2 linked regions of the Homo sapiens genome follow. The protein of the gene in region 2 interacts with the protein of the main gene of each other region in a pairwise test. Each region holds a gene or a part of one and is shown on either strand. Other genes may lie near its edges.

Region 1 (7,452 bases), on a different chromosome or scaffold from region 2:
GACGTGGTTCCAGTCTGAGTCTGAAGCCTGAGACCCACGAGAGCTGAAGACGTGGTTCCAGTCTGAGTCTGAAGCCTGAGACCCACGAGAGCTGAAGACGTGGTTCCAGTCTGAGTCTGAAGCCTGAGACCCAGGAGAGCTGAAGATGTGGTTTCAGTCTGTCTGAAGCCTGAGACCCAGCAGAGCTGAAGACGTAGTTCCAGTCTGAGTCTGAAGCCTGAGACCCAGGAGAGCTGAAGATGTGGTTTCAGTCTGTCTGAAGCCTGAGACCCAGGAGAGCTGATGGTGTGGTTCCAGTCTGAGTCTGAAGTCTGAGACCCAGGAGAGCTGAAGATGTGGTTCCAGTCTGAGTCTGAAGCCTGAGACCCAGCAGAGCTGAAGACATGGTTCCAGTCTGAGTCTGAAGCCTGAGACCCAGGAGAGCTGAAGATGTGGTTTCAGTCTGTCTGAAGCCTGAGACCCGGGAGAGCTGAAGACGTAGTTCCAGTCTGAGTCTGAAGCCTGAGACCCAGGAGAGCTGAAGATGTGGTTTCAGTCTGTCTGAAGGCTGAGACCCAGGAGAGCTGATGGTGTGGTTCCAGTCTGAGTCTGAAGCCTGAGACCCAGGAGAGCTGAAGATGTGGTTTCAGTCTGTCTGAAGCTTGAGACCCAGGGGAGCTGAAGATGTAGTTCCAGTCTGAGTCTGAAGCCTGAGACCCAGGAGAGGTGAAGACGTGGTTTCAGTCTGAGTCAAGGCCTGAGAACCAGGAGAGCTGCTGGTGAAAGTTCTAGTGCAAGGGCAGAAGACCAATGTCCTACCTAGCTCAACAGTCAGGCAGGCAGAAGTTCCCTGTTTCTCAGCCTTTTTGTTCTATTCTGTTCTTCAGTTGGTTGGATGAGGCCCCTGCACATTAAGGAGGGCCATCTGCTTTTCATGGTCTACTGATTCATGTGTTTATCTCCCAGAAACACCCTCACAAACACACCCAGAATAATGTTCGACCAATGAATGTTGGGTACTTTGTGGCCAAGTCAAGTTGACACATAAAATTAAACATCACAGGGACTTAAAAACATGTCCTTTCCCCTTTCCAAACTTATACCCAGGGAGGAAAGCATACAGCAGGGTGAGATGGGGGATCCAGGATGCCACAAATCAAATAATTTTAAGAAGGAGGACAAAAACCAAAAAGAAGTAGATTTTTTTTTGAGACAGTTTCACTCTTGTTGTCCAGGCTGGAGTGCAATGGTGCTATCTCGGCTCACTGCAACCTCCACCTCCTGGGTTCAAGCGATTCTCCTGCCTCAGCCTCTCAAGTAGCTGGAATTACAGGTATGCGCCAGCATGCCCAGCTAATTTTGTATTTTTAGTCGAGATAGGGTTTCACCATGTTAGTCAGGCTGGTCTCAAACTCCCAACCTCAGCTGATCCGCCCGCCTCAGCCTCCCAAAGTGTTGGGATTATAGGCGTGAGCCACTGCACCCAGCCAATTGTTTTTTCTCTAAAGACTCCAAGACCACTGTTTTAGTCTGCTTACAACTGCCATCACTAAATACCACAGACTGGGTGGCTTAAACAGCAGAAATAAATTTTCTCACAATTCTGGAGGCTGGAAGTCCAATGTCAAGATGTTGGCAGAGTTGGTTTCTCCTGATGCCTCTCTCCTTGGCATGCAGATGGCCGCCTTCTCGGTGTGTCGTCACGTGGCCTTTTCTCCGTGTCTGCACCCTCCTCGTGTCTCTTCCTCTTCAACACCAGTCTTTCTGGATTAGGGTCATATCCTTGGGACCTCATTTAATCATAATCACCTCCTTAAAGACCCTATTTCTGACTACAGTCACACTGGGGATTAGGCTTTAACACATGAATTTTGGGGAAACACAGTTCAGTCCATAACAGCCAACCTATTTTATCTCCCTGGAACCCAGAGATGCTATAGTTAGCATTTATGGTGTAGTCATAGCTCCCTCCAGCCCAAATTTTCATAAAGGGGAAAGATGAGGTGGTTCAAGAGCCTTGTCATAATGAAAGGCAATTCAGGGCCACCGTCATTACTAGTATCATCATCATCACCATCATCATCATCTTTATCCCAACACCTTAAGAACCCGTTCATGATTTATGTGGTGGTTCACAAAGAGAACTCGAAAAGTGAATTTATTCAGCTATGTTTACTGAGCTCACCTGATGCACTCAACTAGCTATTTTTGGTAGGGAGGGCACTAAGATGAATAACACAACCCCTTCCTTTAAGGTGTTGCTGTTTTGTAGAGTGTTTAGACACACACACACACACACACACACACACACACACACACCCCTATACTCCAAACTAGAAAGTGATAAATACGGCTGGGCACGGTGACTCACGCCTGTAATTCCAGCACTTTGGGAGGCCGAGGCAGGTGGATCACGAGGTCAGGAGTTCGAGACCAGCCTGAACAACATGGTGAAACCCTGTCTCTACTAAAGATACATATTAGCCGGGCATGGTGGCGCCTGCCTGTAATCCCAGCTACTCAGGAGGCTGAGGCAGGAGAATCGCTTGAACCCAGGAGGCGAGGTTGCAGTGAGCTCAGATCGCACCACTGCACTCCAGCCTGGGCAACAGAGCGAGACTTTGTCTCAAAAAAAAAAAAAAAAGAAAAAGAAAGTGATAAATACTATGGGGCTGGGCGCGATGGCTCACGCCTGTAATCCCAGCACTTTGGGAGGCCAAGATGGGTGGATCACAAGGTCAGGAGATTGAGACCATCCTGGGTAACACGGTGAAACCCCGTCTCTACTAAAAATACAAAAAATTAGCCGAGCGTGGTGGCACGCGCCTGTAGTCCCAGCTACTCGGGAGGCTGAGGCAGGAGAATCACTTGAACCCGGGAGGCGGAGGTTGCAGTGAGCCTAGATCACACCACCGCACTCCAGCCTGGGCGACAGAGCAAGACTCCATCAAAAAAAATAAAAAATAAAAGAAATGCTATGGAAGAAGTAATAGAATATGCTATGGGAGAGTTTGGAAGAGAAATACACATAGAGTTATACTAATAACCAAAATCCTTTATTGACCATTTATCATGTGCTTGGCACAATTAGCTTAATCCTGAGTCTTAATTGTCAGGATCTTACATTATAAGATAGACAAAAATTCAACGCATGCTTTACTAAGTACCGTTTGTATCAGTGGGTAAAGCACTGTGTTTGGTACTCTCTCAAATGCAAAGATGATTACGACACATGTACTATCGTTTATGAATGGGTGGCCAACAGAACAGATTGCCGCATAGGTAAGCAGAAATCTGCTCTCATTCTCTATTGGCCACAAGCAGGCATGTCTTAGGAGCAGAAGGGTAGGAAGATCTCTAACTGTGCTTGGAAACTTGGGGAGTTACCACGTCTGGCTAAAGTGGTATTGTCTTAAGGAAAACCTATGAATTTGCCTGCGTTGGCTTGGTGCTGAGGAAAGTGGAAGAGAGAGGCTGGGGTACACCTTTCAACATGAATGGAACTGACCACTGGAGGGAAAGAACAAGAAACAGCAGTGAGAACAAGGAACAAAGACCATCCAGCCCCTCACCCACCTGGGGGGAAGTGAGGGGAGATGGGCAGGGTGACAACGTGGCCAACATCTAAAGTGTGAAGAGGGGCTTTTACCAAGTGCCCACCCCTTCCCGAGCAGGGGGCAACCAACAGCATCTGGCGGGTCTTACTACTGGGCAGAGGCAGGGGAACCCTGGTATGAGTTCTGGATTACATAGGAGATGTGACTTGGACACGTTTGGGGCTTAAAAGTAGGAAGGGATCAAGGGGGGAGATTTGAAAATCCCGGTGGAGGTGCGAGGTATCCGGGGAGAGGGTAAAAACGGGAACAGTCTTCAGCACCTGCCTGTACCAGGAGCTCTGTGTATGCCATCTCATTTCCGTCTCCAGCAACCAGGCGGGCCTTGGCGGCAGGAGGCACAGGCTTTGGGAGCAGAGGCCCTGCAGCTTGCCAAGCACACACGGCCCTAGGGCGCCCAGCTGAGACGGCACCTTGGCACCCGGGCCCGCTGCAGCCCGCTCCGGTCAGCTGCACCCCAGTCAGGAGCCTTTCCAGCGGGTCGGAGGAGAACGGAAGTTTGGGGAGACCCGCGCGATTCGCCTGGCTGCATTTTACATTTCTTTCTCCGGCAGCTGGGGTCACGAAGGCTGCTCTCGCCGGCGGTGTTGGAACGTGGACACGTGCGCTTTGGTAATAGGGCAGCCTCCCCCGCGGGCGCAGTCCCCGCTGCGAGCGCCCCCGGCTGCTGAGGCGGGACCGAGGACCCGGAGATTTGAGCCGCGGGTGGGCGGGGAGGGGCCTTTGTGACCTGCCCGCCCCTCCCCGGCACTGTGATGCCGGGGGGCAGCTGCGGGCCCGGCGCGCCTGTCCCCGGCGTCCCCCCCTCCCGGTGTGTCACAACGGCGGAGGCGGCTGTATCTGGAGCAGTCGGGGCGGGCAGGCCCAGCTGAGAGGTGCGCGGGCGAGGACAGCGGCAGCGATGGTGAGGCTTCCCGGGGCCAGGCGGGCTGCGGGCGCGCGGCAGGCGTAGGACCGAGAGCCGAGTCTACGCGGAGGCGCACGGACCCGTCTTCCTGGAGCCGCAGGGCTCAAGGCCTTCTGGGGGTGGCAGTTCAGGGTCGAGGAGTCCGCACCCTCGGGCGGGAACACCCGGTGCCCTTTATCGTATGGGGGAAATAGAGACCAGGGGCCAGTTGTTCCTTAAAGGGACCTAAGGGAGCTTTGCGTGCAGACGAGGGGGAGGGAGGCCCTGGGGAGCCCGACGGAGAAGGGGGCGAGATTCTGGGGTCCCCAGATGGGCAGCCTGTGGACAGAGTGGAGAGAAGGGCGAGTCCGGGGATTCTGGATGGGTGGTCTGGGCCGGGGCGACTGGGGGGCCAGATGCAGTCACGTCTCCGAACCCAGCCTAATGTGACAGGGCCCGGAATGTGACAGAGGACCTAGGGCGCCACGGTCCCCCCACGCGTGGAGGTCTTTCTCGCAAGCCTGGCCAGCGGCTTGGGTTTGCTGCACGCACAGCCCCAGCGCGGCGGGGTCCTCCGGGCGCACTCAGCAGCTCCCAAGTCTTTCCAGCGGTCAGAGTCGAAGGACTTTGGGAGTAAGAAGTCTCTGCTTCCAAAGGCCAGGGGACCTTCGACCTGTTTCCTACCCTGGCTTAGGGGGATCGCGGCTGCTCCCTTCCCTGCCCCCGCCCCTGGATCTTACTGAGGGGCGGCTGCAAACACTCAGTTCCTCTTTCTAGGGTCCCCCTCTCCGCCCCCAGTGCCCCTGGTGGTTAACATTTGCCCCCAGTCCACTTTCCCAAAGCCCAGAATCCCAGGAATCCCTCCTGGACCCCTGATCTTTCAGCAGTAGGGAGATGGGCTGGAAAGATTGGGGGCAGAGTGAGGGCAGAATAAGCCTATGTCATGGCCAAGGTCGGGTTCCCTGGGCAGGCTTGCTCCAGGTGTCAGTGATCCAGAAAGCAGGCGAGAACCCCCTCCGCCCCGCCCTGTTACGTTTGGCCCGTGCCCAGGGCCTCCTGGCTCCCCCGGAGCTCTAGCCTTCCAGCTTCAGTTTTGTCAGCACCCTCCCTCCTCCTAGCGGGCTCCCAGACACCCCTGGGAACTGAAAGAACTTGGGAATATTAGGGAGGGTGGCCACAGGAACCTATTTCTGCCTGAGGACCCTGGTATGAGGCCACACAAAGGGCCCGGAGCTGCCAGTTCAGAATTTTGACTCCTGGCTCTGCAGCTAGCTGTGTGACTTCAGGAAGGTCACTTAACCTCTCTGGATGTGTTTGTTTTACCTGCGAAATGAAGAGGGTTATAATTCAAATTTCCAAGACTCCACTTAGATTTCATTATTTTTAAACTTTTTATGGTAGGGAATTTCAAACATATGCAAACGGAGAGCAAATGGTATAATTAGCGATTATATACATCATCTAAGTTCAATAATTACCAACTTCTGACCTGTCTCACTTCATTTATTCCCTCCCTCCATAATTTTGAAGCAAATGCTAGGCTGCATACTCTAGAATTGATATTTAATATTTATAATATCTAGCAGGTAGCTAGTGTTTTAGGATTTTCCAAGTGCTTCCCTTGCATGCTTTAATTTGGATCTGAATGCCATTGTGGTACAGAGTGGAGCCCAGAGGATGTTTACAGGGGCGTGTCGAGGATCTTAACCCAGCCCTGTGCACAAGCTTGAATGTGTGATCCACAGACGTGTTTCTGACAATGCCTGGTAAATCAACAATTCAAACAGCAAAACTTTATTTTGAACGTGCTTAAGAATTTGGGTGTTTAGCTGAAAACCTATGGTTAAATATTTTGAAATGCGACCACCTTTCATTTATTTTGAAACACTCAATTTTGTCTAGTAGGTTCTATCTAGAACATTTAACTTGTGTGCGTTGCACTGTCTTGATGGCTAATATTTTTTGTTGAACATTTTACACTCACAGAAACTTTTAAAATATCATTTGGCTCATTTGTAAAAGGCTAAAATGACACATCTATAAACCTAGACCCCTAGAATCTCACCCTTACAAAAATGACTGTATTTCTTCTAAGGATTAAGTTTCAGGCTGCTGTCCTGTCCCCTTCACTTCCCTCCCTGGTGGGGGTTTGGGGGAGGTGACCTTGGTGTTAAGGAGAATTCGATTTGGAATTTCTGTAGGCTCTGGGCAAGAAAAGTGTAACTAATCCTTAAGTGTATTTTTAAATGCATTTCTCTAGCTGCTAGGCAGATGAGCATTTTTCCTCTGTGAACTTACCCCCAACCCCTTCTCCCCAGCTACCCACTGCACGGTACCACCAATACCCTTTAGCATTTCTGTCCTGGAGCCTAAAGTGACACAGCTGGTAAGAAGCTGCGTAGGGGCTGGAGTTTACATCTGCTGGGCACCAGAGCCTCTGTCCTGAGCCACCTGCCCGTGCTGGGACCGGCAGGCTACTCCCACAGCAGACCATTCCCATCCATTCCCAGTGTTCTAGCACGCAGCTCTCTGGGAACTCAGACTATGACACCTTTTTTGGGAAGTGGTATGGAGAATCCTGGCCAGGTGCCCTAAGCCAAGCCCATGCCAATGATACCAGGGCACAGAGAAGTTTTCTGTGGTTTATGGGGAGGTGGGAACATCTGCAACACGGCTTCTTTAACTCCATTCCGTTAGGACTGGAGAGCACGAAGGAGCCCGTCTCCCTGCAAAAATGGGCAGTTAGAGGGTTCTGGGGGCCAAATGGACACCCTTCTGCCTGCAGCCTTCTGCAGTCTCCCCATGTAGACAGGCATGGCCAAGCTCTGTGGAGTTGATAGGTGTATTCTGACCTCAGAGCACTGTGTGGGCTCCCAGGGGCTGCAGGTCACTGCTGCCTCCTCCTCCCCTCCCATCACAAAAGGCAGGTTTCCCGAGAAGCACTGGGCGCATGCCTCCGAGTGAGGGGCCTTG
Region 2 (7,022 bases):
CTCGTAGTTGGTGACATTAAATTTCAAATCTGAATGACAATAGGGAGCCAACCACAAGGAGATCAGGGAGAGGAACATTTCAGGGGCAGAGAACAGCAGGTATGAGTGCCCCGAAATAGGAAGTTTGGCATGTCTGAGGAACGCAAAGAAGATCATGAAGGGTTAGTGGGAGAACACTGCAGAATAAGGTGGGCAGAGTTAAGATCACAGAGGGTTGTAAACCATGGCCCAGTGACTTAGGAAAAGGGAACCCACCTAGGGATGAACTCTTAAAAAGGATTATCTATTTTGCCTTTTCTGGAGGGCTCTGGCCTATTTCCTGTTTTATTCTTTAGGCACTGTTCAAGAAGGACATCAGGACAAGTTTGACTGTCTAGAAGAGTTCTTGTAATAGAGTGGTATTTAAGCTATCACAGCAGTGGGCACAATCAGAATTTCAAAACTGCAAGAGGTTGGACTGTTCTGAATTTGAATCTTGAAGTTTCAGTTCAGCCTGTCATCTTCTCTTTTAACCTTCTATTTGGAAATACTTTCAAACTTACAGATAAAGTCGTGAGAATAGTATAAGGAATACCATGTTGTCTACCTTTTTCTCAGATTCACCTATTAACATTTTGCTCTATGTGCTTTATTATTTTTTCTCTCTTGCATTTGAATCATTTGAGAAAAAGTTGTATATGTCATGGCCCTTTATTCCTAAATACAAAACCACAGTACATTTCAACTTCAGTATATTTAACATTGGATAACAGACAGTAGATTCAAATATTGTTAACAGTGCTATTGATTGACTGATACTGTCCTTTACAGCATTTTTGCTTCAGTATAGGATCCACTCTAGGATCACCTATTGCACTCAGTTATCAAGTGTTTTTTTTTCATTTGGAACATATTCTCAACCTTTCTTTGTTTTTTATGACATTACATTTTCGGAACTTGTAACTTCTTTTAATAAGAATAAAATAATAGTTGACATCCGTCAGGCACTTACTAGGAGCTTAAGTACTTGACAGATACTATTTCAGTTAATCTTCACAACACTTCTACAAGGTGGATACTATTATTGTCCCATTTTACAAATGGCGAGTTCTCTGTTTCTAGTCAGTAAATAATCAAGAGGAGCCGGGATCAAGAACCCAGTCCACCTAGCTCCAGAGGCAATGTTCTTATGGCTTCAGTGACATGTATTATCATCAGTGTATCTTTGCAATTCTGAACCAGTGCAGAACTATTTGCAGATAGAGTTGCTGCAGAAAGGAAATCAGGAAGTAAAGCTGCACACGAGCTGAGGAATCACAAGCAAATTAAAAACCAATCTCCTCTCTATCTGTAGTGAAATACAGCACTAGCCCCTTCAAGTCCTTGTACCCATTCACACCTCTTAAATGTCAGTAGTCTTACTACCATTCATTTATTCAACAATAAATATTTGAATAAATATTTGAATGCTTGCTGCATTCCAGTGATGGTCTCAGAAGAAATGACATTATATTTATTATCACAAAGTGATGGAATAATACAATCAAAAATGTGAATATGACAGTACTTTTCTTTGAATAGTGACCTGCTATCGTGTTGGAGGCTTTGCTTGGAGTCATCTTCAGTCTTTTCTGTTGACTTTACCTTTGACCAGTGATTAAATCCTCCAGGTATGATGAGATGTGATGTTTCTGAAAAGTTGTTTGATTTACTTGTGAGTTGCAGTGGCAAAGGTTAGGTAGATCTAAGTTTGCATAAGGAGTATTACCTTTCTTAAAGATACAGCCTGGTTTCATTATCATCAGTCTAAAGGATAATCCAAAATAGTTTTTAAAGCAATCTAAATATCCTCAGTGCCTTTTGAATCAAGTAGGTTTGTCCCCAGGTGACTTACTTGGAAACTCAAGACCGAGAAAGGTAAGAGCAGGTATGAAGGAACTTGCGGAAGACCATTCACACAGTGATGGGCCATTCGCTTTTGGTTTTTGTCTGTCAAACAAGTGCCAAGAGTTCTGTTCTATGTTAACTACCAGCCTTGTTTGTCTGTTGAAGAATATGGTGTTATCCTGACATAAAACTGTTCTTCCCTCCAGAGTGTTTAATTCCTGAGGCAATGATATTAACAAAAAAAAGCAAATAATAGAAAACATTTGTATACTGTTTACTGTGTCAATGACTGTTCCAAACACGCTGCATGTATTGGGTACCTGAAATCTCACACCAACCCTATGAATTAGGTATTCTTAGTAAGCCTATATGAGGAAACAGACAAATTTTTAATAGAGTAATAATGGGCATTTTGGCTTCAAATACAGGTTTCTGTTTGGATACACTAAGGCCCAGTTGTAATGTGGAGGCTTCTACCCACTAAACAAGAGTTTCTAAACATTTTGAAGCTTTTAAATTTTCCATTGCAGCCCCTGTGCCAGGAACTCTACCTCCAGTGAATTGCTGGAAGAAAGTGTAGTTTCACATTGTTAAGCATGACTGCCATAAGCACATTTAATTTCTCAGAACTTCTAGTGATGCCTCATGGAACTCTGGGTTTGGAGCATCATATATTCCTTGCTGAGAGAAACCTTATGACTGGCCCAACCTCTCAGAAAAATGTGCATAAAGTCACACGGCACATTAATGATGAACCCAGGCCACAAACCCTGGACTCCTGACTCCCAATTATTTTAATCTTTGCACTTTTCTGCCTTGTTAAACACAGTTAAGAAACCTACCAAGTGTGCTATCCAGCTAAAGTAGAAAAATGAAATGGACAGTTAAAACTATTAAGCTAGTTCATAAATTCTCATGGCTGGAAGCTCTTATTCAATTTCACTTGGAAAAACAGCCAGAGCTCATTTGAGGGCAACCGAAGTAGAGAAAAATTAAGAGCAGAGCATGCATAGCACAGCGGTTACATTACAGGGGAATAACTGGGGGAAAAATGACTTAAAGTGGAAACAAACTTTAAGATATTCAAATAAGAGCATGACAAGGACCTGAGAATCTTGAGGTTTAAATCTAATAAGATAGGCTTAAGCAGTAGATTCTCTGCTCTAAGGCTTGGGCTTTGGCAGTACCAGCCTGGTTAACGTGTCATGATATCAGGTTGCAAATGTTCTGGTTGAAGCTGTACCAAATGAGATTCAGGGATTCTGATTTAGCTGACACTGAATGAATACTTGTCATATACTTGGCGCTGGTCATGGACAAGACACAAACTCTGCTTTATTAAGGAGATTCAGAAGTAGCCATGGGAAGAAAGGAACAAGGAACTAATGTACAAGGAACTAAGCGCTGTCATGGAGATACAGGAGACGCGCTGCAGACATACCAAGAGGAGTGCTATTCACTTTGGCTAGAAGCAAGGCTTCCTGGAGAAGGTAGCATTTGCAAGAAATGCCATCAGTGGGACATCAAATGTTGGCAAAGAGAGGAAGCAAACTAGAGGGGAGGGTGAACATTCCATTTAGGATTTGGGGTTTGGTGGCAGTGAAAGGTTTGAAGTAGCCCCTTTTCTTCTGTCTTCTCTCGCCTTCCCCTGAGCAGATTGGAGTTTAAGCTCAGGTAGAATTTAGTCTTCATGAGTTAGAGGAGGCTGTTTCACCACTGAGGATGCAAGGGCTCAAGAATCTTATAGCCAGTGTTCATGGCTTTGGGATTCTGGGATAAGGTGAGTGTCTCCACTCCACTCCTTGCCCTTCAGCCTGCACAAGTGGACTCTAGTGGTTTTCTGCTTGCAAAAGTGGTGGGCTCAGCAAGGATACATTTCTGTGGCAGGATTGAAGACGGTTGTTTAGGTGAGGCAAGGCGCAAATGACCTTAGACCTTTCACCCTTATTAGATCCCTCTCAGACTCATCCTTGTCCCCATCACCATCCAAGGAATTAAAAAAATTACTCTTTTTCTCTCAACAAAGGCTAGTGCCCCTTCTCCCGCTCTGCTAATCCTGAGCCTGCCTCTCCTTTCTTGTGTTTTCTCAACAATGCCTTATTCCCCCTTTTCCCATCTAGTAGCATTCAGTACACAGTTTTAGGTAGCTGGACTTGAGAACCACAAGAATAGGGCATTGTCTTTGTTTGGTTACTTTCCCCGGTGCTCAGTGCTCAAGTAGGCACTTGTTGAATATTAATGGAATCATTGAAGAAACTGCAGGCATTTTCAGACATACTATACATAGTTGTGGTTTCCCATTCTGGCCGCTTTAAAAGCACTGCATCCCTCATTGCATGGGCTGGTTTAGGTTTAAAAGGATTCAGTGAACTCTTCCTCTCATTATTGTCCATCCAGGATTTGAGGTGCCTTTCTCCTTGAGCCCGGGTTTCCCCTTCAGTGTCAGGTGATACCATATTCACATCAAGGTCAGCTCCCTCACGGGCCTGGCTGGTGCTCCTGGGACCAAGGCCTGGTCATCCTGTGTGCCTGTGATCTGCTTTCTGGGTAGTGTCCAAACCTGACGGCCCTTCCCTGGAAGGATTCTCATGTCCCAGAAACACTGGACATAGACACCAAGGGACTGGTTTTATCATGTAGTAAATCCCCTTATCCCTCTGAGTCTGTTCCCCCACTTGTGAGTCAGGATCCTACATGCTTGTGCACTCATAGGGTTGTGATGGGTACTTTGTAAATTGTCAAATCCTAACCATATATCAGGTCTTAATCTTCATATCACAGCAGTTCATGTGGAAATGGAGGGGGAAGAAGCTAAAGACTTGCCAGCCAGAGGTTTCATGCGGTCTTCCCCTTTCCCCAGGAGGTTCACAGAAAGCGTAAAGAGGCTGATTTCACAGCTATTTTATCTGAAACAAAGCAATAGGAGCAATAATAGCAGCTAACATTTGAGTACTGTGCCAAGCTCTTTAAGATGAATTCTATTCAATCTTCTGGCAACCCAATGAGAGGTTAGTCTTTCAGTCCAGTTTCACTATGAGGTAGGTAGTTAAGTGACCTTCCCAAGGTCTCATGGCAAAAGGCAGAACAGAACGAGAGATCTGACCCAAGTCCCACACTCCCGCCTTCTCATGTTTCAGCAACCCAGGAGGAGAGAGCATGTGTCCTGCATCTTTTTAAAAAGGACCTGCCATTACTTAGAGCTTCACATTTATAGTGGGTGTGTCCTGAGTAAGCTCACACCTATGGCTGTGGAATCCCTTTTCAGAAAGGCAATCTCGATGACCTAGTGATCTGGCCTAGTCCGGCCAAGGTGCTGGGGGAAGGATGAGGTCATCTGGGGGCCTTTCCAACACAGTGACACTTGTGGGGACAGTTGTCTACACTGGAAGAAGCATTGGTGGTGCCTGTGGAAGTACCACAGAACATTGACGCAGGGTCTGTTTGTCTGTGCAGGTGCTACCTTTTTACCCACACTTAAGTGACGCAAAATGCCCTTCAATGGCGAGAAGCAGTGTGTGGGAGAGGACCAGCCAAGCGATTCTGATTCTTCCCGGTTTTCCGAAAGCATGGCTTCGCTCAGTGACTATGAATGCTCCAGGCAGAGCTTTGCAAGTGACTCCTCCAGCAAATCCAGCTCTCCTGCTTGTGAGCCGATGGGGGAGCAGGGGTTGTGGGTGGCAGGGGTACTTCTAGATATGTGTTGGATTTGAAAACTCAGAAACGCCTGAGAGCAACAGACTTCCCCTCCTTTCTAGATGCACCAGAATAGCACTGCAGAGGCACTGCAGCTTTCCGGGACACATTCTCAGAAATAGCCACTAAAGTTTACAACCTGCTGATTTTTATTTTGATCACTGCTTCCGATCTGTTTCGGTCTGATGATAAGTCAGGACTTCAACCCCATCTGTCTTTTCTCCCAAACAGCAGAAAGCCATTCCTTGAGATTACTTCTTAGATCTCCACTGAAGGATAAATTCAAATTGGTCTTTTCTGATTATTCCTGATTTACATTGAAGGAAACTGGCCTTCATTGAAAGGTCAGGAAGGAAGTGAAATAATCTAAAGGGTTTCATGTTGATTTCAAAAAAATATTGTGCAAATCACCCCAGGAAGGTACCCACAAGGAGAATTACTACATTAGGGGTGTGAGAAAGAGTTAAAAGAGAGGCCACAGCAAAAGGAGATATCTTTTTCCCGTTTTTGCATGTAGAAACTAGAGATGGGTAAAGCAGATGTGTTTGCCTTTTTTTTTTTAATTGGCACTTTATTTAGTAAATATAACAGCTTTAACTGGCAAAGCAAATGCAGGAAAAAGCAACTAATGTTTAATATGCTGAACTGTCCACTTCTTACAAATTGCTTCATTTGTATTTTAAATTTTTACATTCTCATTTTTTAAAACTTAGAAGATACATAAGAATAGAGAAAAGAAAACATTGCCTATGATATCACTCAAAGACGACAGCTGGCAGTGCTTTGCCGTATCTTTATCCTTCACATAGACATATGTGTGTATATGTGTGTGGACTCTTCTTGCTTAGTATTATAACTAAAACATTTACTCATGATTACATGTTTTTGAAACATTGGTTTTATGAATACTTATTACTTTACCAAGTGAATGTACGGTAAAATTAACCATTGATTAATCACTGGACATTTAGTTTCCATTTTTTTTTTTTTTTTTTTTTGCTGTTATAAATAGTGCTTTATGAACATCTTACTGCATGAAGCCTTTCTGGAAAGACTTTTGGATATCACTGGATTATTGGACCAAAGTATATAGACATTTTTAAGGAGAATCTTGAGTCAGACCTGGCAAAAGAAATTAACAGCAGCCACCCCAGGTTTCTGTGCCTTTTCTCACTCTTTATACTGTATGTGGTGTTGTTGCATCTGACACCAGGGTACCTAGGCATCCTGAAGAAGGGTTTTACCAATTCTGTGTATCACCTTTCTCTTCTTCCTCCTCTTTCCCTGATCCTCCTCCTCATCTTCTCCTAAAAATTAGGTAGCCAGGCGCAGTGGCTCACACCTGTAATCCCAGCACTTTGAGAGGCTGAGGCAGGCAAATCACCTGAGGTCAGGAGTTCAAGACCACCTGGCCAACATGGTGAAACCCCATCTCTACTAAAAATACAAAAATTAGCTGAGCA

The links. The genes of interacting proteins can lie anywhere in the genome.
Region 1: the proteins of TCP11L2 (region 2) and TUBA8 interact in binary tests that used the Homo sapiens proteins (3 or more experiments, as listed by UniProt).

What each region holds. Positions count from the first base shown.
Region 1 is NC_000022.11:18,106,372-18,113,823, forward strand, and holds the start of TUBA8 (tubulin alpha-8 chain), read left to right. Parts: upstream 1-4,437; 5' UTR 4,438-4,494; coding exon 4,495-4,497; intron 4,498-7,452.
Region 2 is NC_000012.12:106,305,722-106,312,743, forward strand, and holds part of TCP11L2 (T-complex protein 11-like protein 2), read left to right. Parts: intron 1-1,560; exon of another isoform or gene 1,561-1,649; intron 1,650-3,209; exon of another isoform or gene 3,210-3,356; intron 3,357-5,319; 5' UTR 5,320-5,354; coding exon 5,355-5,511; intron 5,512-6,571; exon of another isoform or gene 6,572-6,713; intron 6,714-7,022. UniProt on the Homo sapiens protein: Promotes the migration of muscle-derived satellite cells (MDSCs) during differentiation throught interaction with FMNL2 and therefore may participate in microfilament assembly.